Linked DNA regions of Homo sapiens: regions 1, 2 and 4 are each linked to region 3. The links come from fine-mapping of genetic effects on gene expression. A gene starts in region 3. Each other region holds a variant in brackets. All regions are shown on one strand. Distances are between the middles of the regions.

Region 1 (8,212 bases), 43 kb before region 3:
GCTGAGGCAGGAGAATTGCTTGAACCCAGAAGGCGGAGGTTGTAGTGAGCCAAGATCGCGCCATTGCACTCCAACCCAGGCAACAGTGTCAGACTCTGTCTCAAATTAAATAAATAAATAAATAATAAGTAGGGCGGGGCGTGGTGGCTCACGCCTGTAATCCCAGCACTTTGGGAGGCTGAGGCGCGCAGATTGCGAGGTCAGGAGATCGAGACCATCCTGGCTAACATAGAGAAACCCCGTCTCTAATAAAAATACAAAATAAAATTAGCCGGGCGTGGTGGCGGGCGCCTGTAGTCCCAACTACTCGGGAGGCTGAGGCAGAAGAATGGCGTGAACCCGCGAGTGGAGGTTGCAGTGAGCCGAGATGGCGCCACTGCACTGCAGCCTGGGGGACAGAGCGAGACTCTGTCTCAAAAATAAATAAACAAATAAATAAATAAATATTAAAAGGGCAGGCCGGACATGGTGGCTCATGCCTGTAATCCCAACACTTTGGGAGGCCGAGGCGGGCAGATCACAAGGTGAGGAGATCGAGACCATCCTGGATAACACGGTGAAACCCCGTCTCTACTAAAAATACAAAAAATTAGCTGGGCGTGGTGGCGGGCGCCTGTAGTCCCAGCTACTCCGGAGGCTGAGGCAGGAGAATGGCGTGAACCCGGGAGGCGGAGCCTGCAATGAGCTGAGATCGCACCACTGCACTCCAGCCTGGGCAAGAGAGGGAGACTCGGTCTCAAAAAAAAAAAAAAAAAAAAAAAAGGCAAAAGATCTGAATAGACATTTCTCAAAAGAAGACATAGAAATGGACAAGAAGTGTATGAAAAAATGTTTAACATCATTAACCATCAGAGAAATGCAAATCAAATCTGCAATGAGATATCATCTCATCCCAGTTAAAATGGCTTTTATTCAAAAGACAGGCAATAACAAATGCTGGCAGGGATGTGGAGGAAAGGGAACCCTCGTACACTGTCGGTGGGAATGTAAATTAGTACAGCTACTGTGGAGAACAGTATGGAAGTTCCTCAAAAAACTAAAAATAGAGCTACCATACGATCCAGCAATCCCACTGCTAGGGATATATCCAAAAGAAAGAAAATCAGTATATCGAAGAAATATCTGCACTTCCATATTTATGGCAGCACTATTCACAATAGCCAAGATTTGGAATCTAAATGTCCATCAGCGGATGAATGGATAAAGTAAATGTGGCACATATACACAATGGAATATTATTCAACCATTAAAAAAGAAGATCCTGTCATTTACAACAGCATGGATGGAACTGGAGGACGTTACGTTAAGTGAAACAAGCCATGCACAGAAAGACAAATTGTGCATATTCTCATATGTGGGAGCCCACTTAGCCCCTGGTAATATATATTGTTAAAATTAAAACAATGGATCTCACGGAAATAGTAGAATGATGGTTACCAGATGCTGGGAAGGGTAGTGAGGATAAACTGGGGAAGGTTAATGGGTACAAAAATATAGTTAGATAGAATAAATAATTCTAGAATCTGGTAGTATAACAGGTGACTATGGTCAATAATAACTTATTGTATATTTCAAAACAACTAAAAGACTGAAATTGGAATGTTCCTAACACAAAGAAATGATAAATACTTAAGTAGATGGATACCCCAATTACCCTGATTTTATTGTTACACATTGTATGCCTGTATCAAAACATTACATGTGCCCCATAAATGTATACACCTATTATACACCAATGATCATTAAAAAATAAAAAAAAATCAAGGTGATAAACCTAATCCTTCTGAAACTCATTTGGAAGGAATGAAAGATCAAGGACCCCAAGGTTGTGAGTACGTACAGAAGCAGTATAGTAATTGGTAGGTATGTACTGCTGCATTTTCCCTATGCAGTCAGTGATACCTATTGGATATCTACAAAGCATCTGTCACAAGAGACGACAGAGGAGAAGTTTAACATACTTCTTTAAAGAACTTCATTCTGGCTAGGCGCAGCGGCTCGTGCCTGTAATCACAGCTCTTTGGCAGGCCGAAGTGGGAGGATTGCTTGAACCCAGGAGTTGAGGCTGCAGTGAGCTATGATTGCATGACTGCACTCCAGCCTAGGTGGCAGAGTCCCTGTCTCAAACAAATAAACTTCATTCCATTTGCACAGTTAAGACAAACACATGTGAAGTAGTATATATACTCGGGAGCTAAGTGGGGCCTAAAAAATGTAATTTAATCCTGTCAACCAGCCTGTAAGGTAGGGATGGCTGTCCCCATTATGCTATTGAGGAGACAAAGCATAGAGAGACTAAACTAGTTGCCCATGTAACACAGTTCATGTGTAGGAGTGTCAGGGCTATACCCACATTCATCTGATCCTGAAGTCCATTCACAGACCCACCAGAGCTTACTGCTTCCAAATCAAGAGGACACAAACAAGGGCCAAATAAACCAGGAAACATTATATGAAGCAATGGGACTTACGCCTGACCTTGAAAGGCAAGCAACAGTTGGACAGGCAGAAACTAAAAGATATGACACCATAAGATGCAGGAAAGCATGCACAAAAGCCCAACTGTGAGATTTAGCTTAATACAAGAGGACTAGGAGAGCAGGGAGGTAGTGACTGATTGATGGGATGAAGCACAAAAACAGGAGGAGGTGGGAGCAGAGGTGACTTGAAATCACATGGGGCCAGTGGCAGGTGTGAGGAGAGTTTGAACATGGTGTGATGGGCAGTAGAGAACCATGGGACTTTTAGGAGCATGGAAGTGATATCAAAAATCACAATTTAGTGCAGTAATTCTTAACCACAGGCAATTTTGCTCCCCAGGGGCACATGTGGCAATAGCTGGAGACACTTATGGTTGTCACAACAGGGGAAAGCATCTAGTGGTCAGAGGCCAGGGATGCTGCTAAACACTGTACAATGCACAGAACAGCCCCCACAACAAAGAATTATCCACACAAAATGACAGTAGTAACAAAGTTGAGAAACCTGGCTTTAGGAAGATAGTCTGGCAGTGGCTGCCAAGATGGAACAGAGAGAAGAAGTCAAGAGCCCAGGGGAGATGTTCATTCGGGGAGATGCTCATTCAGGGAGATGGGAGTGAGATGAGGGACCAGAAGGGGAGAATGGCAAACCCTCCAAGTATTTCAAAGGAAAAAGAAAGATGCAATTTCTAATCCCTCTTACAGGAAGTTTTCTACAAAATGTGGAAAACTGCACTTAAGACTTTTT[C/CTT]TTTTTTTTTTTTTTTTTTTGTGATGGAGTTTCGAGCCCAGGCTGGGGTGCAATGGTGTGATCTCAGCTCACCGCAACCTCTTCCTCCCAGGTTCAAGCGATTCTCCTGCCTCAGCCTCCCAAGTAGCCGGGATTACAGCCATGCGCCAGCTTGTCCGGCTAATTTTGTATTTTTAGTAGAGATGGGGTTTCTCTGCGTTGGTCAGGCTGGTCTCAAACTCCTGACCACAGGCCCACCTCGGCCTCCCAAAGTGCTGAGATTACATGCGTGAGTCACCATGCCTGGTCAAGACTTTTTTCTTTTAAATCATCTGAGGGCACCTTATTTTCTGATCTAAAAAATTGTAAATAATACACAACTCCAAGAAAATCACCACCTCGAGAGTGTAGGGCACAAACCTTTAACTATTATCAGTAACATTTTCTGTCTTTTTGTTAGAACAGAATCTGAAGCAAATTTGGCAAAATGTTAACATCTGTTAAATTTGGATGATGGGTACGTGGTTGTCTGTAATATTATTTTCTATACTTTATAGATACTTGAAAATTCTCATGATTAACAAAAAACAGGGTGGGGGAAGAAAGAAAAAGAAAGTCTTAGAGGGGCAGTTAATAACTTATACTAGAATTTTTCTTGGTATTTTAAAATATCATTTGTTAAATTACAGAAGTTATATGTGAATATGTGTTCATTGTAAAAACCATTCAACAATACAAAAATAAAAATAAAAAATAGAAATTCCCCTTTCATTCTATTTCTTTTTCTCTCTCCTTAGGTTACTACTGCTACATGTTAGTGTGTGTGTGTGTGTGTGTGTGTGTGTGTGTGTGTGTGTGTGTATTGTGTATATATACACATTATACTACATATATATGTATATATAGTATAATACATATATTATACTATATATGCATATATAGCATAATACATATATTATACTATATGCATATATAGTATAATGTATATGTATATAGTATATGTATATATACTATACATACTATTGTATACATATATAGTATATATACTATATATTGTGTGTATGTGATATATATACTATATACATTAATGTATATTATATATTATATGTATTATACTATAAACATTAATGTATATTATATATTATATGTATTATACTATAAACATAGTATAATACATGTATTATAGTATATAATACATGTATATACATAGTATAAACATGTATTATAGTATATAATACATGTATATACATAGTATAAACATGTATTATAGTATATAATACATGTATACACATAGTATAACACATGTATTATAGTATATAATACATGTATTATACATAGTATAATACGTGTATTACAGTATATAATACATGTATACACATAGTATAATACGTGTATTGTAGTATATAATACATGTATACACATAGTATATACGTGTATTGTAGTATATAATACATGTATACACATAGTACATACGTGTATTGTAGTATATAATACATGTATACACATAGTATATACGTGTATTGTAGTATATAATACATGTATACACATAGTATATACGTGTATTGTAGTATATAATACATGTATACACATAGTATATACGTGTATTGTAGTATATAATACATGTATACACATAGTATAAACGTGTATTATAGTATATAATACATGTATTATACATAGTATAACACATGTATTATAGCATATAATACATGTATTATACATAGTATAACACATGTATTATAGTATATAATACATGTGTTATACATAGTATAACACATGTATTATAGTATATAATACATGTATACACATAGTATAACACATGTATTATAGTATATAATACATGTATACACATAGTATAACACATGTATTATAGTATATAATACATGTATACACATAGTATAACACATGTATTATAGTATATAATACATGTATACACATAGTATAACACATGTATTATAGTATATAATACATGTATACACATAGTATAACACATGTATTATAGTATATAATACATGTATACACATAGTATAACACATGTATTATAGTATATAATACATGTATACACATAGTATAACACATGTATTTTATAGTATATAATACATGTATACACATAGTATGACACATGTATTTTATAGTATATAATACATGTATACACATAGTATAATACATGTATTATAGTATATAATACCTGTATACACATAGTATAATACATGTATTTTATAGTATATCATACATGTATACACATAGCATATACGTGTATTGTAGTATATAATACACGCATACACATAGCATATACGTGTATTATAGTATATAATACACGTATACACGTAGTATATACGTGTATTGTAGTATATAATACACGTATACACGTAGTATATACGTGTATTGTAGTATATAATACACGTATACACGTAGTATATACGTGTATTGTAGTATATAATACACGTATACACGTAGCATATTACATGTATTATAGTATATAATACAAGTATACACATAGCATATTACATGTATTATGTACATAATACACGTATGCACGTAGCATAATACATGTATTATGTACATAATACACGTATGCACGTAGCATAATACATGTATTATGTACATAATACACGTATGCACGTAGCATAATACATGTATTATGTACATAATACACGTATGCACGTAGCATAATACATGTATTATGTACATAATACACGTATGCACGTAGCATAATACATGTATTATGTACATAATACACGTATGCACGTAGCATAATACATGTATTATGTACATAATACACGTATGCACGTAGCATAATAAATGTATTATGTACATAATACACGTATGCACGTAGCATAATACATGTATTATGTACATAATACACGTATGCACGTAGCATAATACATGTATTATGTACATAATACACGTATACACGTAGTATAATACATGTATTATAGTATATTATACATAGTATAATACATGTATTATAGTATATTATACATAGTATAATACATGTATTATAGTATATTATACATAATATAATACATGTATTATAGTATATTATACATAGTATAATACATAGTATAATACATGTACTATATATATACATGTATAGTATAATACATGTATTATACTATATATAGTATATATTACATATATTATACTATATATGTATATACAGTACACATATACAGTATAATACATATATTATACTATATGAAGTATATATAGTATACATAGTATAATACATGTATTATAGTGTACATATATACATATATACTATGAACATATATGTATATATAATACATAATACATATATACTATATATGTTATATATACACACTAACATATATATACTAACATTAGTATATTACTAGTATATTACCATTAGATATATACTAATATTAGTATAACATTAGTGTGTGTGTTTATATGTATACACACACATTCACTAACAGTGTGTATACATATGTGGTGTGTATATACACACACACACTAACATTAGTGATTGTGTATATATATTGATATGATTCGTCTCTGTGTCCCCACCCTAAATTTCATCTAGAATTGTAATCCCAACATGTCGAGGGAGGGACCTGGTGGGAGGTGACTGGATCATGGGGGTGGTTTTCCCCATGCTGTTCTCATGATAGTGAGGGAGTTCTCATCAGATCTGATGATTTGAAAGTGGCAGTTTCCCCTGCACACTCTCTCTCCTGCCACCATGTAAGACATGCCTTGTTTCCCCTTCTCCTTCTGCCATGATTATAAGTTTCTTGAGGCCTCCCCAACCATGTGGAACTGTGAGTCAATTAAACCTCTTTCCTTTGTAAATTACTCAGTCAGGTATACTTTATAGCAATATGAAAATGGAACACATAAATATAGTCACATGGAATAATATCTTATATATGTGTGTGTGTAAATACATATATATGCCCCTAATTATTTTCCTACGCATTCGTAGAAAGGAAAGAAGGGAGGAAAGGGGAGAAAGGGAAGAAGGGAGGGAAGAAGAGAGAAAAAGAGATTTATGAGATATCTAGATAGATATCTAGATAGCTATCTACCTATCCATCTATCTTATGAGGGACCACAACACACAGGCAACATGATTTTCACATTAACACATTTTAGAGGGTTGCTCTTCCGTGTCAATTTATAAAGATCTACCTCTTTCTTTTTACTTCTTCAGAATATTTCATAGTGTAAATGTACCATAATTTGTTTACTACTAAGATTGCTATATATTTAGGTTGATTCCAATGTTTTGCTATTTCAAACAATCCTGGAACATACAACTTTGTGTTCGTATATAAGAATTTTTGTAGGGGAGATTCCTAGAAATACAATTTTTGGATCAAAGGGTATATACATTTCTGGTGTTGATATACAGTAAGATTGTGCCCCCCTGCAAAAAAACCGTGGGCTCCTCATTTCTCTAAACCCTCACTGATGCTGTATGCAATCAACCTTTAAACATTTTTCCACAATTACCAAAACTGCATCCAAAAACTACTCCACAGACATATTCACACTTATGGGAAGTCATGAATGTACACTGCACTGTTAATGGAAAAATACTGAAAAAATATTTCACCAATAGGGAAACATTTGGACAGATTGTTGTATATCTGCACAATGAAGTTCTGTGCATCTATTAACAAAATAGCAAGGACTCACTGTATATATCCATAGGGGAAGCTCTTGAAGGTAGAGGAACAAAGCAGGATGCAGAGCAATTTATACAGTGCATAACCACTAGTGTTTAAAGTGGTGGTAGTAAATATACATGTTTTACTGTATGTACATTAAAGACAGTGTCTGGGAAATTACACAAGATATTGATAACGGATTGCATTGAGGGAAAAGGCACAAGAGATCTGGGAGAAAGAGGTGGAAAGGGAACTTTCCACATACATTTTTTATACCTATTTTCATCTTTATCGTTGAACCCTTTAAATGTACTACCTATTCAAATAATTTTTACAGTTTGAATTCAGACATTAAAAATCTGCCAAATGGT
Region 2 (8,212 bases), 140 kb after region 3:
TATACCCATTGCCTCATTTAATCTTCCCAGCATTGTCAGAGAAACATTGTTACATTTGTCAGATGAGGAAATGGTAACTTAACTGCCTTGCTCAAGGAAACATCACCAGTAAGTGAGGGAACAGGACTCAGATTTGCCTCCTAAATCTAATTGCAAACCCTTGCAACTACCCCAGTTCTACTTGCTTATAGGCCTCTGGGATGGCTACTTTGTTAATCAAGACTCTCAATGGAAATCAAGAAAAATTACAAAGTTACCCACTGGGCATTTTAATCATTCCTCTATGTATCATTTCTCTCCCTTGTTTTGTCCTTTCATTTTTCTGAGTGAACAGGAATATTCCCACCAACTCCCTTAAAAACACAAGTTTCTTCACTAATTTCTCGTAGCTCCTACAGATTTATATATGATTTCTGGGCAGACAGAAGTAATCAAAGTCATCCAATTTCTTTGGCTGACCAATAACTAAATTGAGAGCTGCTTCCCTTTTAAGTCACATGATTCAGGTTATTGTTTTATTATTTGGTGCTTCATAGTACCAGAAAGGTATTCAGACTTAATTTTGGACATTTTCTCCCCAGTCCATAAAAGCCTGGTAATAAAAAGATATTTGACATGACCTTTTGCTATATGGTTGGTGCTACAAAATGCTGATTTTAAGAGAAATTAGCAAAAGTACATCAACATATGAAGAGATGAACAAGATATCTTACATTTATACAATGGAATATTATTTGTCCATAAAAAGGAGTGAAGAACTGATACATCCTGCAACATGGATGAACCTGGAAAATACTGTGCTAAGAAAAAGAAGCCAGTCACAAAATGCTGCATATGGTATGATTCTGTTTATAGGAAATGTCCAGAACAGGGAAATCAATACAGACAGAAATTAGATCAGTGGTTTCCTAGGGCTAGGTTAATGAGGGAATTTGGGGATGATAGCTAAAGGGTACAGGTTCTTTTTAAGGTGATGAAAATGTAGTTGCATAATTCTGTGATTATCTTAAAGACGATTGAATTGTATGCTTTAAGTCAGTGAATTGTATGGTGCATGAATTATATCAATGAAACTTTTTTTTTTCATGTCTGACGGGTAATGTGCTGAAATTTATGAACTACCAAAGGATCTAAAACCGGTTTTTTATTATTTTTTATTTTTATTTATTTATTTAATTTTTTTGAGACGGAGTCTTGCTCTGTAGCCCAGGCTGGCATGATCACAGCTCACTGCAAACTTGAACTCCTAGCCTCAAGTGATCCTCCCACCTCGGCCACCCAAAGTGCTGGAATTACTTACAGGCGTGAACCCCCACACCCAGCCTTAAACTGTTTTTTAAAAAAGGAGGTTGATATAGTGTTCCACTAATAGCTTGGGGGAAATTCTTTCTCAGGTATATAATACAGGAAGTTATTTGACAGGCAACTATGCTTAAATTTATGTTAATTGTGTAGAAAGAACTGAGTAAATCATTTCCTGTTTTCTCTCCACCTGCCCCCACCAAAAAAAGAAAAGAAAAAATTCTAAATTTGACCAATACAATAATAGCAAGATAACGCAAAGATTACAATGGGATATGGCCTGGGTCAATTAAAGCACCAGCAATTGGCATTGGACCCTCCACCTTATGCATGTCTATATCCAGCCATGATGTGAATATGTGAGTAGCAAAAGTGCTAGCTGTGTCTTTTCCTGATTTTTTTTTTTTTTTTTTTTTTTTTGAGATGGAGTTTCACTCTTGTTGCCCAGGCTGGAGTGCAATGGCGCCATCTCAGCTCACTGCAACCTCCACTTCCCAGGTTCAAGTGATTCTCCTGCCTCAGCCCCCAGAGTAGCTAGGATTACAGGCATGCGCTACCACGCCTGGCTAATTTTGTATTTTTAGTAGAGACAGGGTTTCTCCATGTTGGTCAGGCTGGTCTCGAACTCCCAACCTCAGGTGATCCACCCGCCTCGGCCTCCCAAAGTGCTGGGATTCCAGGCGTGAGTTACCGTGCCTGGCTCTTTTCCTGGTTTTTATATTTTAATGATTCGTATTAGAGTTAATTCACATTAACCCTCTTCAAAAAGAACATTAAACCTAAAGCCCAGTGACTTAACAACATTAAATATTCCAGATTCTTTTCCCCAAAAAGTTCCATTTCAACTCTTGGAAACAAAAAGTTAGATAATGGTTTGGCTTTAAATGCCTCATTTCAAATGTCCTTCCCCATAATACTCCCAAGTGAAAAAAATATTTTTTCCCAATTATTTTTTCATTTAATGTAAAACATTCCAGTTAAAAGAGATTCTCAAAAATAGAGCTTTACAAAAAATACGAGTTCAAGTTTCAGTACCCTACCCTTCCCCCACCCCCGGCCCAGTGGCTCTGAAAAGATAGGCAATTAATAATAAGTTTTTTCCTAAGAAATCTTTGGGGAACCAGCCAAGTTTAAATAGGGTAATTGGTAGGTCTATGGTTGCAATTTACATAAATTATAGAAACATAACACCAGACATTTATCTAATTGAAGAAAATGTGGTGTTCAGTTACTTATCTAGAGGAATTCTACTTGCAGTTTGTGCCATTTGGTGATTAGTCCATTCTCTTGAGAATCTGAGTTGCTCTAGAGACAGAATATATGATAATAATGGTCCAAAAAATCAGTTTTGCTTACTTAGCAACAACAAAAAATATATATTAAAAATAAAATACTATTCATATACATTTCCTTGATAAAAATAGTATTGAAATAGTATAAATCCATAATTCCTTTAGAAGATGCTTATCCACATTCCTGTTAGAGATGTGGAGTAGTTAACACTCACCAGATGATGCTCTCCTTCCTTCCTTCCTTCCTTCCTTTCTTTCTCTTTCTTTTTTTTTTTTTTTTTTGAGATGGAGTTTTACTCTTGTCGCCCAGGCTGGAGTGCAATGGCATGATCTCGGCTCACTGCAACCTCTGCCTCTTGGGTTCAAGTGATTCTCCTGCCTCAGCCTCCCGAGTCTGGGACTACAGGTGTGCGCCACCACACCCTGCTGATTTTTGTAGTTTTAGTAGAGACGGGGTTTCACTATGTTGGCCAGGCTGGTCTCGAACTCCTGACATCAGGTGATCCACCTGCCTCAGCCTCCCAAAGTGCTGGGATTACAGGTGTGAGCCACCGCACCCGCCAATGCTCTCCTTTCTTTCAGTGCTAAAGAACTCTTCACTCTCTTAATCAATCTGTTATTACAAGTCCTATGGCCCTTTGTTGAATTTCTGTTTACTAGAAATATAATAAGCAACGTAAGATATTTAATTTTGTCAAAGTCGTTCCAAATCTCTTATACTAAATA[A/T]GTATAAAGATACTATATATGTATATATATATGTGTATATATGTGTGTGTGTGTATGTGTGTGTGTGTGTGTGTGTGTGTGTGTGTGTATATATATATATATATATATTTTTTTTTTTTTTTTTTTCCACCCAGGCTGGAGTGCAGTGGTGAGATCACAGCTCACTGCAGCCTTGACATCTCTGGCTCAGGTGATCCTCCCACCTCAGCCTCCCAAGTAGCTGGGACCACAGGCATGCACCACCACCCGGGCTAATTTGTATTTTTTGTAGAGATGGGATTGTGCAATATTGCCCAGGTTGGTCTGGAACTCCTGGGTTCAAGTGATCTGCCTACCTTGGCCTCCCAAAGTGCTGGGATTCCAGGTGTGAGCCACCATGCCCAGCCTGATAATAAGCAAAATTCCACTTCCCTAGTGCTACAGACTAAATTTTTATGTCCCACCCAAATTCATATGTTGAAACTCTTAGGATTTCACCATCCTTGATAATTGTCAGATAAAGAAGTAGGACCTTTGGGAGGTAACTAGGTCATGAGGGTGGAGCCCTCATGCATGGGATTAGCGTCTTTATAAAACAGACTTCAGAGAGCCCCTTTACCCCTTTAGCCATGTGAGGACGCAGTGGAAAGATGGCTGTCCACGAATGAGGGAGTGGTTCCTCACCAGACACTGGATCTGCCAGTGCCTTGATGTCAAACTTCCCACCCTCTAGAACTGTGAGAAATAAGTGTTTGTTGTTTATAAGCCACCAGCAATATGGTACTCTGTTACAGCAGCCCAAACTGACTAAGACATCTATTTCTTACCTGAAGGAGTTTGAAGTGGGGTCAAATGCAAGTTTTACATTCTTTTAAATGTAAAAGCCTGGGCGCAGAGGCTCATGCCTGTAATCCCAGCATTTTGGGAGGCTGAGGCAGGCGGCCATCACGAGGTCAGGAGTTCGAGACCAGCCTGACCAACATGGTGAAATCCCTGTCTCTACTAAAAATACAAAAATTAGCCGGAAGTGGTGGTGTGTGCCTGTAATCCCAGCTACCTAGGAGGCTGAGGCAGAAGAATTGGTTGAACCTGGGAGGCGGAGGTTGCAGTGAACCGAGATCACGCCACTGCACTCCAGCCTGGGCAACAGAGTGAGACTCCGTCTCAATTAAAAAAAAAAAAAAGACAAAATAGCATACAATTCTGTCTCAAAGCCTCAAGTACCTTTAACTACAGTCTGTCTACAATAACCTAAGACATTCAAAAGACAGGAGAATGCTCATACCCTCATGCTGGGACACTGATAATCTGGAGCTTACTACATTGACATCACTGGCACCCACTTACTAAACACATGCAATTACTTAGCAATTAGTTCTTGAACAATTTGTGTTTGCTAAGAACTATATCTGACCCAGGGAATAAAACATAAGACACAGTTCCTGCTTGTAAATACACTAGCAAAAGAGAAGAAGACTATCTTGTAGAGACTAGCTGAGTCAGTGAATGTCAGAGATGAAGAGGAAGGGCAATGGCATGAGTGGAATTCCAGGTAGAGAAACGGTGAGAGAAAAAAAGAACAAAGATACCAATGTGAGAAACAAAAAGGTTTCTGCAGCAGGGAAGCACAGTTGGCTGTTGTGGTATACAGGATGAGGCGGCAAGTGGAGAGGCGGGCTGGTCTGAAGGCTCTAGCTGAATCACAGAACATATGCCACATTAAGGGATTTGGATTTAATCCTGATGCAAAATATAAGAAGTTAAGGATTTTAGGTAGAAGCTGACCCAATCAGTCGTGCATTTTAGACAGATCATTCTGGGTTTCTTTGTTGTTTTTAACTTTTCATTTCTTTCTCTCTTTCCTTTTTTCTTTCTCTTCCTGTCCTTTCTTTCTCCTTCCTTCCTTCTCCTTCCTTCCTTCATTCCTTCTCCTTCCTTCCTTCCTTCCTTCTTTCTTCCTTTCTTTCTTAGGGTCTCACTCGGTCACCCAGGCTGGAGTGCAGTGGCACAATCACAGATCACTGCAGCCGAAACTTCCAGGGCCCAAGCTATCCTCCTACCTCAGCTCCCCGAGTAGCTGGGACCACAGGTGTGTGCCACCACACCCAGCTAATTTTCTTATTTTTTGCAGAGACGGGAGTCTACCTGTGTTATCAGGCTGGTTTCGAACCCCTGGGCTCAAGCAGTCCTCCCACCTTGGCAACCCAAAGTGCTTGATTACAGGTGTGAGCATTCTGGTTCTCGTTATAGAAGGTGGATTTTAGGTGGATTGGAGTCAACAAAACTACTTAGGACATTGTTGCAAAAATCTAGGTAAGGATGGCTTAGAACTTCTCCATCCTTGGTCATTGTCAGCCTAGATACAAACTGAGGTTGCACTACAGTGTGAGAGAATTTCAAAGAAGCAGGAAAGAAGTAGAGATGGGTTTTACTAAAGTACTAGTAATCACAGTTACTAAAGGATGCTGTTGTTTTTCCCCCACTCCCCACCACATTCTTTTTTTAACATGTCAGTAATTTATAACTTTCTGAAAGGACCAAATAATAAACCATAAAATGATGATGCCAGGTGTTTTGTTACGTGTTTTTGTTGTTGTTGTTGTTGTTGTTTTGAGATGGAGTCTCACTCTGTTGCCAGGCTGAAGTGCAGTGGCTCGATCTTGGCTCACTGAACCTCCGCTTGCCAGGTTCAAGCGATTCTCCTGCCTCAACCTCCCAAGTAGCTGGGATTACAGGCACGCGCCACCATGCCCAGCTAATTTTTTTGTATTTTTAGTAGAGATGGGGTTTCACCATGTTGACCAGAATGGCCTCAATCTCCTGACCTCGTGATCCGCCCGCCTTGGCCTCCCAAGTGCTGGGATTACAGGCATGAGCCACCATGCCAAGGTGTTTTAATTGTTTTTGGTGTTTTGTTTTGTTTTGTTGTTTTGTTTTGTTTTTGAGACTCTGTCTCTCAGGCTGGAGTGTAGTGGCAAGATCTAGGCTCACTGAAACCTCTGGCCCCTGGGCTTAAGCAACCCTCCCACCTCAGCCTCCCAGGTAGCTGGAACTATGCAGGTGAGTACCACTGCACCCAGCTAATTTTTGTATTTTCTGTAGAGATGGGGTTTCACTCTGTGGCCCAGGCTGATCTTGAACTCCTGAGCTCAAGCAATTCACCCAGCTTGGCCTCCCAAAGTGCTAGAATTACAGGTGTTTTAAAATAAGCCAAATAAAGGATATAAACACTTCCAATTCATAATTCAGATGTAGAGGACCTTACAATAGTTAACAATTTTCAAGCTAAAAATCACATCATCTATAAAACATTATAAGTGTTTTCCTTATTGAAATGGTTTAGCGGAAGGCCGTAGGGCTTGAAATGGAGTGACGGAACACAAACATGTAAGAACAGATAAGAAGAGTGGATGGTTAGTTTAGGAAGGTTTTCCCTTTCCATTCCAAGACTAGATTCTGGCAATATCTGGTATGTCAAACTAAGATATGTAACATTTAAATACACAATATTATTTTTATTGTGAAAATAGTTTAAATATGTTTAGAATATAAAATTTGGGCTGGGCATGGTGGCTCACACCTGTAATCCCAGGACTTGGGAGGCTGAGGCGGGCGGATCACCTGAGGTCAGGAGTTCAAGACCAGCCTGGCCAACATGGTGAAACCTTGTCTCCACTGAAAATACAAAAATATAGCCAGGCATCATGTGCGTGCCTGTAATCCCTTGAACCCGGGAGGCGGAGGTTGTAGTGAGCTGAGATCTTGCCACTGCACTCCACACTGGGCAACAAAGTGATATTCCATCTCAAAAAAAAAAAAATTGTGCCAGACGCTTGCAGAACGCCTGAGACACCTCCATGAAATTCTAACAATGCATACTAAATGCTTTATAATCCTTCTGTTGAAAACCAGACATTCAAGAGCATACAGCTTAATTCCAGCAGAGGGCAGCAAAACTTCACTAAGCAGTTTTCAAAACCCTAGCAGCTTTTCTGTATTACCTAATAATATTTTTAAAATATTCCCCCAGAAGAGTTCTGTAGTTCCACAACTACAATCTCATAGTATTTGTGGAATTACAGTATTACCATACTTATATTTAGGCAGGACAGAATTCTTCCCAGAGTTCAAAGACTGCGGAAGGCTCTTAGATGGATAGGACCTGGGGCAATGCCAAGAGGGAATAAAGACGAGCCACAATGTCTTACTGGGGTCATCTGCCTGGTGGTTTTCCAACTCTTTTACAAAGAGTCATGATTTAAGGTACAATGGGATTCTTTTAAAAAATATGTTGTCACTGCAGGTATGGTGGCCCATGCCTGTAGTCCCAGGCACTGGGGAGGCTGAGGTGGGAGGATCACCTAAGCCCAGGAGTTAAGAGTCCTGCCTGGGCAACATAGTGAGGCTGCATCTATAAAAGCACGCATATATATGTATATGTGTGTGTGTGTGTGTGTGTGCATATATATGCACACACACACACAAAATATATATACACACACACATACTCACATATTTTATAGTTGTTTATATAAGCATGTGTATATATATTTATAATAACAGTTACAACATATATATGTTGTAACTATGGGTCTGAGTTTTCTCATCTGTAAAACTGAGATAATAATTGCACCAGCAGGGCGCAGAGGCTCACACCTGTAATCCTGGCACTTTGGGAGGCTGAGGTGGGTGGATCACGAGGTCAGGAGTTCGAGACCAGCCTGGCCAATATGGTGAACCCCCATCTCTACTAAAAAATAAAAAAAATTAGCTGGGCGGGGTGGCAGGCACCTGTAGTCCCAGCTACTCGGGAGGCTGAGGCAGGAGAATTGCTGGAACCAGTGAGGTGGAGGTTGCAGTGAGCAGAGATCGCCGCACTGTACTCCAGCCTGGGCAACAGAGCAAGACTCCAT
Region 3 (8,212 bases):
TATCCCTCCTTCTTCCAATCCCTGGCAACCACTGATCTTTTTACTGTCTCCATAGTTTTGCCTTTTCCAGAATGCCATATAATCGAACTCATACAGTTTGTAGCCTTTCCAAATTGGTTCTTTCACTTAGTAATAACAATTTACATTTTCTCCATGCCTTTTCATGACTTGGTATCAAGCTCATTTTTTCTTAGTTCTGAATAATATTTCATTGTCAGGATGTGCCACAGTTTATGCATTCACCTACTGAAGGACATCCTGGTTGTTTTCAAGTTTTGACAATTATGAATAAAGCTGCTATAAACATCCATGTGTAGGTTTTCCTGTGGACATACATTTTCAACGCCTTTGGATAAATACCAAATAATGCAATTGCTGGGTCACGCACATGGTAGGAATATGTTTAGTTCTGTAAGAAACCACAAATGCCAGGTACAGTGGCACATGCCTATAATTCCAGCACTTTGGAAGGCCGAGGCAGGTGGATCCCTTGAGCTCAGGAGTTCAAGATCAGCTTTGGCAACATGGCAAAAGCCCATCTCCACAAAAAAATACAAAAATTAGCTAGGCATGGTGGCACACGCCTGTAGTCCTAGCTACTCAGGAGGCTGAGGTGGGAGGATTTCTTGAGCCCAGCAGTTCAAGACTGCAGTGGGCCAAAATCACGCTACTGCACTCCAGCCTGGACAACACAGTGAGACCCTGTCTCAACAACGAAAACAAAAAACTAAAAGAAAATCACCAAGATGTCTTCCAAGTGGCTACACCATTTTGCATTCTCACCAACAATGAATGAGATTGCATCCTCACCAGCACTTTGTGTTATCAGTGATCTAGAGTTTGACCATTCTAATAGGTGTGTAATAGTATTTCATTGTTGTCTTATTTTGCATTTCCTGATGACATATGACATATAGCATCTTGCATATGGTTATTTGCCATCTGTATTCAGCATCTTTTTAGGTGAGGCATTCATCAAGGTCTTTGGCTCATTTTTAAAATTGGGTTGTTTATGTTCTTATTGTTGAGTTTAAAGATCTTTTCTTATATTTTGAATAACAGTCCTTTATCTGATATGTCTTTGGTAAATATTCTCTCTTAGAATGTGGCTTATCTTTTCTTTCTCTTATCGGTGTCTTTTACAAAATGGAAAATTTTGATTTTAATGAAGTCCAGCTTATCAATTCTTTCTTTGATGGATCATGCCTTTGGTGTTGCATCTAAACAGTTATCATCATATGATGTTAGCTGTGGGCTTGTTAAAAAAAAGTTATCATCAAACCCAAAGTCATCTAGATTTTCTCCTATGTTTTCTTCTAGGAGTTATACAGTTCTGCATTTTACATTTAGGACTCTGTTCTATATTGAGTTCATTTTTGTGAAGAATGCAAGGTTTGGGTCAGACTAATATTTTTGCATGTGGATATCCAATTGTTCCAGCACCATTTGTTGAAAGATAATCTTTTCTCCTTTGTTTTGGCTTTACTCCTTTGTCAAAGACCGGTTGACTATTTATGTGGGTCTATTTCTAGGCACTCTGTTTTATTATTTATCTATTTGTTTATTCTTTCACTAATACTACACTGTTTTAATTACTGTAGCTTTATAGTAAGTCTTGATGTCGGGTAGTGTCAGTCTTCTGACTTTGTTCATCTTCAATATTGTTTTCGCTGTTCTGGGTCTTTTGTCTCTCCATATAAACTTTAGATTCGGTTTGTTGATATCCACAAAATAACTTGCTGGGATTTTGATTGGCATAGTGTTGAATCTATAGATCAAGTTGGGAAGAACTGACACCTTGACAATATTGAGTCTTCCAATCTATAAACACAGAATATCTCTCCATTTATTTAGTTCTTTGATTTCTTTCATCAGAGTTTTGTAATTTTCCTCATATAGATTTTATACATATATTGTTAGATCTATACCTAAGCATTTGATTTGATGGGATGCTAATGTGAATAGTATTGTTTGTTTGTTTGTTTGTTTTTGTGACGGAGTCTCTCTCTGTTGCCCAGGCTGGAGTGCAGTGGTGCGATCTCGGCTCACTGCAAGCTCCACCTCCTGGGTTCAGGCCATTCTCCCGCCTCAGCCTCCTGAGTAGCTGGGACTACAGGCGTCTGCAACCACACGCAGCTAATTTTTTGTATTTTTAGTAGAGACGGGGTTTCACCGTGTTAGCCAGGACAGTCTCGATCTCCTGACCTCGTGATCCGCCCGCCTCAGCCTCCCAAAGTGCTGGGATTATAGGCGTGAGCCACCGCGCCTGGGCAGTATCGTGTTTTTATTTTCAGCTTCTATTTGTTCATTGCTGACATACAGGAAAGCAATTGGCTTTTGTGTATTAACCTTGCATTCTGCAATGCCACTATACTCACTTATTAATTCCAGGAGGATTTTTTGTGGCTTCTTTCAGATTTTCTACATAGACAATCATGTCATCTGCAAACAAAGTTTTCTTTCTTTCTTCCCAGTCTGTATACTTATTTCTTTTTCTTGTCTTAGCTAGGACTAAGGCTAAGTCTTAGGATTAGCTCAGACTTCCAGTGTGATGTTGAAAAGCAGTGATAAGAAGAGACATTCTTGCCTTGCTCTTGTTCCCAATCTCAGTGGAAAAGTTGCACTTTTTCACTGTTAAGTGTGATATTGGGCTCTACAGGATTTTTTTAAAAAATAGAGATAGAGTCTCACCATGTTGCCCAGGCTGGTCTCGAACTCCTACACTCAAGCAATCCTCCTGCCTTGGCCTTCCAAAGTGCTGCAATTACAGGCATAAGCCACCACACCCGGTCTCTAGGAGATTTTTTGTAGATATTGCTTATCAAGTTAAGGACGTTCTCCTATATTGAGAGATTTTAAGAAGCAGAGTGAATTAAGCAGATTCACATTTTAGAAATCATTCTGGCTACAGGCTCACGCCTATAATCCCAGCACTTTGGGAGTCTGAGGTGGGAGGACTACTTGAGGCCAGGAGTTTGAGACCAGCCTGGGCAACGTAAACAGACTCTGTCTCTACAAAAATTTTTTTAAAAATTAACCAGGCGTAGTGGTGCATGCCTGTAGCCCTAGCTACTTGGGAGGCTGAGACAGGAGGATCATTTAAGACCAGGAGTTCGAGGTTACAGTGTTATGTTCGTACCAATGTAGGCGGCCTGGGTGACAGAGCAAAACCCTGTCTCTAAAAAAAAAAAAAAAAGAAAGAAAAGAAAAAGAAAAAGCAAGTGTTGGGGTGAAGAAATTAGAACCTCATATACATTGCTGGCAGAAATGTAAGATGCTGCAACTGTTATGAAAACAGTTTGGCAGTTTCTCGAAAAGTTAACCATAGAATTACCATGTGACCCAGTAATTCCACTCTTAGGTGTATACCAAGAAAATTGAAAATAGGGATTCAAACAGATACTTGTACATCAGTGTTCACTACAGCATTATTCACAATAACTAAAAGATGGAAACAACCCAAATGTCTATTAATGGATGAATGAGTAAACGAATTGTGGTATATATATACATAGAATGGAATACTATTCAATCATAAACAGATATGAAGCTCTGATACATCCTACAACATGGATGCACCTTGAATACATTATGTTACTTGAGAGAAGACACAAAAGGACAAATATTGTATGATTCCACTTTTATGACATGAAGTATCTATAATAGGCAAATTCCTAGAGACAGAAATAAGATTAGAGGTTTCTTAGGATTGAGGGGAGAGGAAAATGGGAAGTTGTTGCTTAATGGGTACAGAATTTTTATTTGGGGGTACTAAAAAGCTTTTGGAAAAATATACTGGCGTATTCCACAACATTGTATCATGGAATTGTCACTTGAAAATGGCTAAAAATAGCAAATTTTAACACACATATTACAACAATAAAAAATAAAAAAGTAAAGGTTTGTCAGGCATTTAATAATTAATACCTTTCATTGTTTTTGTCTGGAAAGAGTGTGTGCAAAGATACTTAACAACCAAATGTAATGTGTGATCCTTGATCGGCTCTTGCATTTTTTTTTTTTTTTTTTGAGACGGAGTCTCACTCTGTCGCCCAAGCTGCTGGAATGCAGTGGCGCGATTGGCTCTTGCTTTCTAAATAAAATGCCTATAAGATATTCTTAGGACAAGTGGGGGAAATTAAATCGGGAAGAGAATTATTATGAAATTAATGATCTTAGGTATAATAATTGTACTGCGGTTATGTAGCAGAACATCTATTCTTAGGAGATACATGCTGCAATGTTAAAGGGTTAAGTGTTACAATGTCTGCAATGTTAAAGGGTTAAGTGTTACAATGTCTGTAACTTACTTGCAAATGGTGACCCCAAAAAGGTGTGTGTGTGTGTGTGTGTGTGTGTGTGTGTGTGTGTGTGTGTGTGTGTGTGTGTGTGTGTCTGTGTACGCGCTTTGGAAGGCTACAATTGCGAGAAGCGCAGGTCTCCGCCACCGAAGCTTTAGACTCATAAGCCGGGTCAGGCCAAATTCCGCTGTGCGTAGGGGAACAAACGGCACAAACGGGGCACAAAAGGGGAACAAACGGCATACGCAACCGTCCCCGCGGGAGCCCCGGCCCAGCTCAGCGCACCCGCCAGCATGCCCCACCCTGATTGGTCCACTTGCTCAGCTCGCCGGCACCCCTATATCCAATTGGCGTAGCGCTTGCTGAGCGGCGGCGGCAACCGACGTACACAAGGGGCTTGAGCGTTCTGTGGAGAGAGTGCGAGGTCAGGCCATGAACTTGGGGTAAGCAGGGGTAAGCTGGGGTAAGCTGGGGTAAGCAAGGTGGTCGTCAGCGGAGAGGGAGGCATGTGTGTCTGGGTTGTCCCTTGGAGTCTTTACTGGAGAACGTTCCCAACCTGCGCCGCCGAGAGGGGCAGAGCCCAGTTCTCGGGTAGAAGATCGAGGCAGATGGGTCGGCCCTTAGCGACTCCACAGACCTTACGTTTTCACTTAATGACTAGCATTAAAACTGCCAGTGATCCCCTTTCGGTCCCTTATTTACCTCAGGATGAGGAGGGAAGAGAGGTGAGGAGGAAAGGAGAGAAATGACGAGACAGTTAGAGGAAGCGTGGCGGCTCCTGGGGAGGACTCCTGGCCCATGCCCCGGGTTCTTCGCCACCTTGTTTTTGGAGTCTTGCAGAATGTTGAAACGCCCAAATTCGTTTTAGGCCCACGAGGCGGGGAACCAGGCTTCTCAAGAAATCGATGTAGTACCAGTGCCTAACACCTAGTAGGCGCTCCTTAAGTAGGGGTGAATAAATAAAAAGGGCTGGTGCATGGTCTTCATCACTCGCAAGTTTGATATTTTGAGAAGATGAGAAGCCACCAAACTCAGACCTAACTACACATCGTTCAGCAAATGTTATTATGTTTTAGAATCTGGGGATATGGAAATAAATAAGATAGTGTGTCCCTTAAGGAGATTACAGTGCAGTGCGTCATTGAAGGTACTTTACCATTGAAGCTCTTTTCTTTCTTGGTGACGTTTCACCAACATAAACACGAACTGTTCATAACCCTACAATAAGGAAAGCCGTAAAACCTATTCTTTCCAGTGTTTTACCTTTAATAGTTAAGGTGAGGTAATTTGATTTCCCCTACCTGAGCAACACCGCAAATTTCGCATTCCTAATCAGACCTTTCCCAGCCTCTCTCTCCCTTGACTGGCTTGCTGGATTTAATTTTCTCTCTCTGAATTATGGACTGTATGTATGGGCTGCCATTTTTGTTCTCAGTGGAGTTTTAGGACCTTAACAGACGTTCAAGTTTTGTTGGCAGTGGCTACTGTTACTTTATGCCTTTGCTTCTGATATGCACGTATAAAGCACCATACTAAATATCACTATGTATTATTTGAAATATTGAAAGTGGTACTCTTTGCTCAAGCAGTTACTAACCTTGATGGCATTGTTAGTAGTCATATCGATGCTCCAGCACTCCATAGAATGTTTTAGTCATGAGTTCATTATGAAACTAATGAATGGCGGTTAAATATATCTTGTTCCTTTAACTTATGTGAGGAGTTTTGGTAACAGCATTATTAAAAAATGGTGGTATGATAACTTAATTTATAGTTTACCAATAACAAAATGAGATTTCAGGTTAATGATAACAATGCTTGTAGTATTGAAGAGTTTCAAGAATTTTCCCCCTGTAGTTGTGGGTTTTATCTTGGATTGCAAACGTTTTTAATTAAAACACTGGTTCGATGTGTACAAGATTCCTGCATAAATTCAAAATAATGGATTTATTGTCAGGTTCAAATGAACATTTCTGGTTATTTAAAATGTTGCGGTTTGTTAAAAATGAGAGACAACTTTCTTTTTTTATTACAGAGATGGTTTAAAGCTTGAAACTGAATTACTGGATGGAAAAACCAAGCTAATATTGTCTCCATATGGTATGTTGTGTTACAGAAATCTGAAATGTTAACTTTTAAATTCATACATAAAATTTATATTAGTTCAACAGACTTTTTGCTTGTAATAGAGTGATATTTAAATGATATTTTAGAAAAAGCTGTTTCCTCAAACTTCTGCAGATTTCCTTCTAGCCAAATAAAATCAGATTACAACACTGCTTACTACTGTCAGTATTCAGACTCATAACATTTAATGTTCCAGTATATTGCGTGTTCATTATATCCATATAGCAAATATCCTCATTGCCTGATGAATAATACAAGTAAAATTTATGTAATTATGTTCTTTGCATGTAAAGAATGTATCATTTGAGAAAAGTTTATAGTAAGACCACCGTAAAATGCTAAAGTCACTTTTAGTATTCGTTTTTAAACTCAGTGTACTTTGGTACCTTCTCCTTCGCATTTTTTTTTCTGTTTATAGTTTTACCTTGGAAAGATAAAAAACAAAAATAAAATAGAAGTAAATCCTTGAACTGGATTAGAAAAAAATACTCAGTCAAGATCTAAAGTTTATGCTTTCGAGGATAATGTTGCTAGCTTAAAATCTTATAACAATATTAATTACAGTTTTCTTGCATTACCACCTTAGTATGCTTTTGGTGGATAGTTTAGTAATTTCTTTTTTCTTTTGTAGAACATAAATCAAAAATTTCTGTGAAGGTAAGCCGTATAACTTTGACCTGACCTGTTTTCAAATGTAAAATGCAGTTTTATTTATAGTGGTTAGAAAATAATTCCTGGGAAATGTCAAGTGTTCTAAGGGGTTTGGAATTATAGTGAGGAGTTATTATTTTCTTGCTTTCAGATTGGTCCTTTCACAGAAATTGAATCATTTTAGGTTTAGCCCAATAGAACCTCTTTCTCTAGATAAGTGCTATTCAGTAAAGCATCTGTGTTAATGGAAGTGTTCATTAATAAAATCAGTATTATTGAATATGGAAGCCACTAGTCATGTATAGTTATTGAACCCTTAAAATGTAACTAGTATGACTGAGCAACTGAATTTCTAATTTCCTTTAATTTTTAATGGAATTTAATGGATAATGGATTGTACTGGACAATGCACTCCAGAGATCTTTAAAAATAGATATTCAGACTTTAAACAGAAATGTTTTTTCTTTTCATACTCAAATTCCATTTGCCCACACCAAAGGGGAAATTTAATTCACAAATTGTAGCATGCATTTAGCATTTTCCTTTAAAAGGTTGCACTTGAGCTTAAGGGTAATTTTCCTTTTAAATTATTTTCCCTTATCAGAAATCTATTGTGCTTTTTTCTACAAAATACATTATCACTTTGTTTATTTTAATTTTTGAGGCAGAGTCTCACTCTTGTCACCCAGGTTGGAGTGTAGTGGCATAATCATGGCTGCAGATCTTCCTCCTCCAGCCTCCTGAGTAGCTGGGACCGTGTGCATGAGCCACCATGCCCAGCTAATTTTTTTTATTTTTAGTAGAGATGGGATCTCACTATGTTGCATAGGCTGGAATTACCATTTAAAAAATTTTTTTGAGGTTGGGCATGGTGGCTCATGCCTGTAATCCCAGCACTTTGGGAGGCCAAGGTGGGTGGATCACCTGAGGTCAGGAGTTCAAGGCCAGCCTGGCCAACATGGTGAAACCCCATCTTTATGAAAAATACAAAAATTAGATGTGGTGGCGCTAGTCCCAGCTACTTAGGAGGCTGAGGCAGAAGAATCACTTGAACCCTGGAGATGGAGGTTGTAGTGAGCCGAGATCGCACCACTGCACTCCAGCCTGGGGGACAGAGCGAAATTCCTTCTCAA
Region 4 (8,212 bases), 42 kb after region 3:
ATAGGTCCTGTCCAGTTGTGTCACGAATCCAATCCCTACCACAACTGGCATTGTAATATTAGAATTAGCTTATCAAATGCTACAGCCACCTGCCTTCCAGTACAGAAGGTCTTTAATATATTAAGTTGTATATGTGAATTTGTGTTGTCTTAGGTTAGTACTGGTTTTTTTTTTTTTCATCAATTTATTTCTCCTGAGTTCTGTTTAAGATGAGAATTCATTCTTTGAATAGGGATTGAACTAGAATTATGACTAAGAAATCTAATGCATAATGGCCGGGCACGGTGGCTCACGCCTGTAATCCCAGCACTTTGGGAGGCTGAGTGGGCAGATCACGAGGTCAGGAGATCAAGACCATCCTGTGAATGGTGAAACCCCGTCTCTACTAAAAATACAAAAAATTAGCTGGGCGTGGTGGCAGGCGCCTGTAGTCCCCAGCTACTCGGGAGGCTGAGGTGGGAGAATGGCATGAACCTGGGAGGCAGAGCTTGCAGTGAGCTGAGATTGTGCTACTGCACTCCAGCCTGGGCGACAGAGTGAGACTCCATCTCAAAAAAAAAAAAGAAATCTAATGCATAATATAAGAAAGGAGGCTAAAATTAAAATTAAAACTTCCTGTCCTGATTTTAGCCTAATGCTAAAGGGACTTTAATATCTGCATAATTCTTCAAATCCTTTGATATATGAATTTGGCATCATTAATGTTATGCTTAGTCAGTGAGCAGACATTTGCAGAGCATCTGCTACTTAACAGGCACTATGCTAAGCACTGAGATTATTTCTTCAGTTTTTTTTAATACCATTTCCTCCAGTAGCCCTCCTAGGGTTGAAGAAAAGGCATGTAGAACTTGACAGTACAAATGGGAGATGGGAGAAATGCATTGGAAATTTGACATTTCCACTTCACTTATATAAATAATACTTTCAGTATGCTGATAAAAACTTATTTCTACAGTCACCAAACTAATGCTTCATGGATTTTAAAAATTGATATATAATGTTTTATATATTTATAGGATACATATGATATTTTGTTATATATGTAGAATGCGTAATGATTCAGCCAGAGTATTCTGGTATCTATCACCTTGAGTATTTATCATTTCTGTGTTGGGAACATTTCAAGTTTACTAGCCAATTTGAAATATATAATACATTGTTGCTGACCATAGTCACCTTACTATTGCTATCAAACATTAGAACTTATTCCTTTCATCTAACCATATGTTTGTACCCATTAACCTACCTCTCTTGATCACTACCACCCTCACACACACCCTTCCCAGCCTTTGATACCTATCATTCCATTCTTTAGCTCGTTGAGACCTACTTTTTTAGCTCCCACATATGAGTGGGAACATGTGATGTTTATCTTTATATACCTGGCTTATTTCACTTAACATAATGACGTCCAGTCCCATCTGTGTTGCTGTAAATGACAAGATTCTATTCTTTCTTTATGGCCAAATAGTATCCCATTGTGTATATACCACATTTTGTTTATCTATTTGTTCATCAATGGACACTCAGATTGTAAATAGTGCTACAGTTAGCACAAGAGTGCAGGTTTCCTTTTGATATACAGATTTCATGTTCTTTCGATAAATATCCAGTACTGGGAATGCTGGATCATATGGTAGTTCCATTTTTAGTTTTTTGAGACGTCTCCATACTGTTTTCCATAGTGACTGTATTTATTTACATTCCCACTAACAATGTATAAGGATTCCCTTTTCTCCGCTTCCTTGGCAGTATCTGTTAGTTTTTGTCTTTTGGTATGTTTGTTTGTTTGCTTGTTTTTGAGACAGGGTCTTGCTCTGCTGCGCAGTCTGGTATGCAGTGGCATAATCATGGCTCACTGTAGCCTCATACCCCTGGGCTCAAGCAATCCTGCTGCCCGAGCCTCCCCAGTAGCTGATATTACAAGCATGCGCCACCATGTCAGGCTAATGTTAATTTTTTTCTTTTATAGAGACACAGTCTCACTATGTTGACCAGACTGGTTTCGAGCTCCTTGCCTCAAACAGTCCTCCAACCTCAGCCTCCCAGAGTGCTGGGATTACAGGCATGAGCCACCGGGCCCAGCATTTTTGTCTTTTTAGTAATAGCCATTCTAACTGAGGCGATATGATATCTCATTATGGGTTTGATTTGCATTTCTGTGATTAGTAATGTTGAGCATTTTTTCATGTACCTGTTTGCCATTTATATGTCTTCTTTAGAAAAATGTTTATTAATGTTCTTTGCCCACTTTTTAATGGAATTATTTGGATTTTTGGTGTGTGTGTGTGTTTAGTTTGAGTTTCTTAGGCATTCTGGATAGTAGCCCTTTGTTGGATGAATAGTTTGCAGATATTCAAACTACTGAATATGCAAGCTATTGAATATTCAAACTACTGAATATTCAAACTGGGGGACAGACTGTCTCTTTCACTCTGGTTATTGTTTCCTTTCCCGTGCAGAAGATTTTTAGTTCAATGTAGCCCTATTCGTATGTTTTTGGTCCCTGTGTTTTTGAGGTCTCGACCACAAACTCTATACCAGTGTCTTGAAGTGTTTTCCGTATGTTTTCTTCTAGTAGGTTTACATTTTTGGGTCATACATTTAACTATTTAATCCATCTTGAATTTTTTTTTTTTTTTTTTTTGAAGTGGAGTCTCAGACTGTCACCCTGGAATGCAGTGACGTGATCAGCTCACTGCCGCCTCCACCTCCCAGGTTCAAGCAATTCTCCCTGCTCAGCCTCCTGAGTAGCTGGGATTACGGGTGCATGCCACCACACCTGGCTAATTTTTTTTTTTTTTTTTTAGTACAGATGGGGTTTCACCATGTTGGCCAGGCTGGTCTTGAACTCCTGACCTTAAATGATCCACCTGCCTTGCCCTCCCAAAGTGCTAGGATTACAGGCATGAGCTACCACACCAGCCCTTGAATTGTTTTTTGAATATGGTGAGAGATGGGGCTCCAATTTCATTCCTCTGCATATAGATATCCAATTTTCCAAGCATTATTTATTGAAGAGTGTGTGCTTTCCCCAACTATGTTCTTGACACTTTTGTTGAAAATCAGTTGGCTGTAAATACATGGATTTATTTCTGGATTCCCTATTCTGTTCCATTGATCTATATGTCTGTTTTTATACCAATACCATGCTGTTGTGGTTCCTATAGTCTTGTAATGTATTTTGAAGTCAGGTAGTGTGATGCCTTCAGCTTTGTTCTTTTGATCCACCTTGATTTGGTTATTACGGCTCTTTTTTGGTTTCATAGAAAGTTTTGAATTTTTTCTACTTCTGTGAAAAATGAAGGTGGTATTTTGATAGAGATAGCATTGAATTTGTAGATTGCCTTAGGCATAATTCTTCTGATCCATGAACATGGGATGTCTTGCCATTTGTTTGTATCCTCTTTCGTTTATTTCATCTGTTTTGTAGTTTTTTATGTAGAAATGTGTAACCCCCTTGGTTAAATTTATTCCTAGATATTTTATTGTTTTGTAGCTATTGTAGGTGGGATTGCCTTCTTTATTTCTCAGCTAGTGTATAGAAATGCTACTGATTTTTGTATGTTGATTTTGTATTCTGCAACTTTACTGAATTTATTGATCAGATGTGAGGTTTTTGTGGAGTCTAGGTTTTGTTTTGGGGTTTTTTTTTTTTTTTGAGACAGAGCCTCGCTCTGTTGCCTAGGCTGGAGTGCAGTGGCGCGATCTCATCCCACTGCAACCTCTGCCTCACAGGTTCAAGCGATTCTCCTGCCTCAGCCTTCCAAGTAGCTGGGACTACAGGCATGTGCCACCGCACCTTGTAATTTTTGTATTTTTTTAGTAGAGATGGGGTTTCGCAGTGTTGGCCAGGCTGGTCTCGAACTCCTGACCTCAGGTGATCCACCCGCCTTGGCCTCCCAAAGTGCTGGGATTTCAGGCATGAGCCACTGTGCCAGTGGAGTCTAGGGTTTTTAAGATATAAGATGATAACATCAGCAAAGGGGACGTTTTGATTTTAGTTTGTTTTGTTTTGTTTTGTTTGTTTGTTTGTTTGTTTGTTTGTTTTGAGACAGCTCTGTCACCTAGGCTGGACTTCAGTGGCACAATGTTGGATCACTACAACCTCCACCTTCTGGGTTCAAGCAATTCCCATGCCTCAGCCACCCAAGTAGCTGGAATTACAGGTGTGTGCCACCATGCCTGGGTAATTTTTGCATAGGGGAC[TTTTTA/T]TTTTATTTTATTTATTTTCTATTTTATTTATTTTATTTATTTTCTAATTTAGGTGCCTTTTATTTATCTTGCCTGGTTGCTCTGGCTAGGACTTCTGTTGCTATGTTGAATAAGAATGGTGAAAGTGGGCATCCTTGTTTTGTTTTAGCTCTTAGGGGAAAGGCTTTCAGCTTTTCCCCATTAAGTATGATGTTAGCTGTGGGTTTGTCATATATAGTCTTTATTATTTTAAGGTATATACCTTCTGTGCCTAGTTTGTTGAGAGTTTTTATTATTTAGTGATGTTGAATTTTGTGAAATGTTTTTTCTTGTCTACTGAGATGATCATATGGTTTTTGTCTTTCATTCTGTTGATGTGATGTATCACATTTATTGATTTGTGTATGTTGAATTCTGCCTGCATCCCTGGGATAAATCCCACTTAATTATTGGGTATTAGTTTTCTCATGTGCTGTTGGATTGAGTTTGCTAGTATTTTGTTGAGAATTTTTGCATCTATGTTCATCAAAAATAGTGGCCTGTAATTTTCTTTGTTCTTTTTTGTTGTGTCCTTCTCTGGCTTTGGTATCAGGGTAATGCTGGCCTCACAGAATGAGTTAGGGAAAATTCCCTCCTCTTTGATTTTTTTGGAATAGTTTGGGAAGAATTGGTTAGTTCTTTGATAGTTTGGTAGAATTCATTAGTGAAGTTGTCTGGTCCTGGACTTTCCTTTGTTGGGAGACTTTTTTATTACCAATTCAGTCTTATTACTCATTACTGGTCTGTTCAGGTTTTCTATTTCTTCCTGATTCAATCTTGATAGCTTGTGTGTCTCCAGGAATTTATCCATTTCTTCTAGATTTTCTAGTTTGTCTGTGTGTAGTTGTTCATAATAGCCTCTGATGATCTCTTGTATTTCTGTGGTATCAGTTGTAATTTCTCCTTTTTTATTCCTGATTTTATTTGGGTCTTCTCTCTTCGGTTCTTGGTTAGTCTATCAAGTAGCTTATTGGTTTTGTTTATCTTTTAAAAAATCTTTGTTTCTTTGATCCTTTGTATTGTGTGTCTCTATTTTGTTTAATTCTGCTCTAGTGTTTGTTATTTCTTTCCACTAATTTGGGGTTTGTTCTTTTCTAGTTCCTTTTAGGTACATCATTAGATTGCTTTTTGAAATGTTTCCACTTTTTTGATATAGGCACTTATTGCTAAAATTTCCCTCTTAGCACTGCTTTTGCTGTATCCCATAGGTTTTGGTATGTTGGGTTTAAATTTTCATTTTTTTCAAGAATTTTTTTAAATTTTTTCCTTGACTGGATGCTTGTTCAGAAGCATGTGGTTTAATTTCTATTTATTGGTACAGTTGCCAGTGTTCCTCTCATTATTGATTACTGGTTTTGTTCCATTGTGGTTTGAGAAGATACTTGATATGAAGTCAGTTTTTTAAAGTTTGTTAAGATTTGTTTTGTGTCCTAACATATGATCTGTCCTGGAGAATAATCCTTATGCTAATGAAAAGAATGTGTATTCTCTTAACTGTTGGATGAGATGTTCTGTGTCCATGTGTTCTCATGGTTCAACTCCCACTTATGAGTGAGAACGTGCAGTGTTTGGTTTTCTGTTCTTGTGTTAGTTTGCTGAGAATTATGGTTTCCAGCTTCATCCATGTCCCTGCAAAGGACATGCACTCATCCTTTTTTATGGCTGCATAGTATTCCATGGTGTATATGTGCCACATTTTCTTTATCGAGTCTATCATTGATGGGCATTTGGGTTGGTTCCAAGTCTTTGCTGTAGTGCTGCAATAAACATACATGTGCACTTATCTTTTTTTTTTTTTTTTTTGAGACAGAGTCTTGCTCTGTCGCCAGGCTGGAGTGCAGTGGTGCAATCTCAGCTCACTGCGACCTCTGCCTCCCGGGTTCAAGTGATTCTCCTGCCCCACCCTCCCAAGTAGCTGGGATTATAGGTGCCCGCCACCGTGCCTGGCTAATTTTTGTATTTTTAGTACAGAGAGCATTTCACCATGTTGGCCAGGATGGTCTCAATCTCCTGACCCCATGATCGGGCTACCTTGGCCTCCAAAAGTGCTGGGATTACAGGCATGAGCCACCGCGCCCGGCTGCATGTATCTTTATAGTAGAATGATTTATAATCCCTTCGGTATATACCTAGTAATGGGATTGCTGGGTCGAATGGTAGTTCTGGTTCTGGATCCTTGAGGAATTGCCACACTGTCTTCCACAATGGTTGAACTAATTTACGCTCCCACCAACAGTGTAAAAGCGTTCCTATTTCACCACATCCTCTCCAGCATCTGTTGTTTCCTGACTTTTTAATGATCGCCATTCTAACTGGCATGAGATGGTATCTCATTGTGGTTTTGATTTGCATTTCTCTAATGACCAGTGATGATGAGCTTTTCTCCATATGTTTGTTGGCTGCATAAATGTCTTCTTTTGAGAAGTGTCTGCTCATAGTCCTTTGCCTACTTTTTGATGGGGTTGTTTTTTTCTTGTAAATTTGTTTAGGTTCTTTGTAGATTTTGAATATTAGCCCTTTGTCAGATGGGTAGATTGCAGAAATTGTCTGCCATTCTGTGGGTTGCCTGTTCACTCTGATGATAGTTTCTTTTGCTGTGCAGAAGTTCTTTAGTTTAATTAGATCCCATTTGTCAATTTCAGCTTTTGTTGCCATTGCTTTTGGTGTTTTAGTCATTTTGTCCATGCCTGTGTCCTGAATGATACTGCCTAGGTTTACTTCTAGGGTTTTTATGGTTTTAGGTCTTACGTTTAAGTCTTTATTCCATCTTGAGTTAATTTTTGTATAAGGTGTAAGGAAGGAGTCCAGTTTCAGTTTTCTGCATATGGCTAGCCAGTTTTCCCAACACCATTTATGAAGTAAGGAATCCTTTCCCCATTGCTTGTTTGTGTCAGGTTTGTCAAAGATCAGATGGTTGTGGGTGTGTGGTGTTATTTCTGAGGCCTCTCTTCTGTTCTATTCATCTATATATCTGTTTTGGTACCAGTACCATGCTGCTTTGGTTATTGTAACCTTGTAGTATAGTTTGAAGTGAGACAGCATGATGCCTCCAGCTTTGTTCTTTTTGGTTAGGATTGTGTTGGCTGTTTGGGCTGTTTTTTGATTCCATAGGAAATTTAAAGTAGTTTTTTCCAATTCTGTGAAGAAAGTGAGTGGTAGCTTGATGGGGATAGCATTGAATCTGTACATTACTTTGGGCAATATGGTCATTTTCACAATATTAATTCTTCCTATCCATGAGTATGGAGTGTTTTTCCATTTGTTTGTGTCCTCTTTTATTTCCTTGAGCAGTGGTTTGTAGTTCTCCTTAAAGAGGTCCTTCACGTCCCTTGTAAGTTGTATTCCTAGGTATTTTATTCTCTTAGTAGCAGTTGTGAATGGGAGTTCACTCATGATTTGGCTGTTTGTCTGTTATTGGTGTATAAGAATGCTTGTGATTTTTGCACATTGATTTTGTATCCTGAGACTTTGCTGAAGTTGCTTATCAGCTTAAGGAGATTTGGGGCTGAGACAATGGGGTTTTCTAAATATACAATCATGTCATCTGCAAACAGAGACAACTTAACTTCCTCTTTTCCTATTTGAATACCCTTTATTTCTTTCTCATGCCTGATTGCCTTGGCCAGAACTTCCAATACTATGTTGAATAGGAGTGGAGAGAGAGGGCATCCTTGCCTTTTGCCGTTTTTCAAGGGAATGCTTCCAGTTTTTGCCCATTCAGTATGATATTGGCTGTGGGTTTGTCATAAGTAGCTCTTATTATTTTTAGATACGTTCCATCAATACCTAGTTTATTGAGAGTTTTTAGCATGAAGGGATGTTGAATTTTGTTGAAGGCTTTTTGTGCAACTATTGAGATAATCATGTGGTTTTTGTCATTGGTTCTGTTTATGTGAATAGATTACGTTTACTGATTTCCATATGATGAACCAGCCTTGCATCCCAGATATGAAGCCAACTTGATCGTGCTGGATAAGCT

Evidence for each region.
Region 1: its variant is fine-mapped to the expression of CCDC66 in monocytes (BLUEPRINT, PIP 0.95). The same link has a PIP of 0.9 or more in subcutaneous fat.
Region 2: its variant is fine-mapped to the expression of CCDC66 in whole blood (TOPMed, PIP above 0.99).
Region 4: its variant is fine-mapped to the expression of CCDC66 in whole blood (INTERVAL, PIP 0.93).

Annotation. Positions count from the first base shown.
Region 1 is chr3:56,509,379-56,517,590 of GRCh38, forward strand. No RefSeq gene overlaps it. Among named protein-coding and RNA genes, the nearest start is that of CCDC66, 44 kb to the right of the region's middle. The variant C/CTT (reference allele first, on the strand shown) is at 3,229.
Region 2 is chr3:56,695,448-56,703,659 of GRCh38, forward strand. No RefSeq gene overlaps it. Among named protein-coding and RNA genes, the nearest start is that of TASOR, 16 kb to the left of the region's middle. The variant A/T (reference allele first, on the strand shown) is at 3,321.
Region 3 is chr3:56,552,510-56,560,721 of GRCh38, forward strand. It overlaps CCDC66 (coiled-coil domain containing 66), which reads left to right and starts at 4,666. Exons shown (of 18, transcript NM_001141947.3): 1 at 4,666-4,744; 2 at 6,337-6,401; 3 at 7,060-7,085. The coding sequence starts at 4,734. RefSeq lists enhancers at 4,109-4,781, 4,782-5,453, 4,922-5,081.
Region 4 is chr3:56,594,132-56,602,343 of GRCh38, forward strand. All of the region lies in intron 10 of CCDC66 (coiled-coil domain containing 66), which reads left to right. Among named protein-coding and RNA genes, the nearest start is that of CCDC66, 41 kb to the left of the region's middle. The variant TTTTTA/T (reference allele first, on the strand shown) is at 4,210.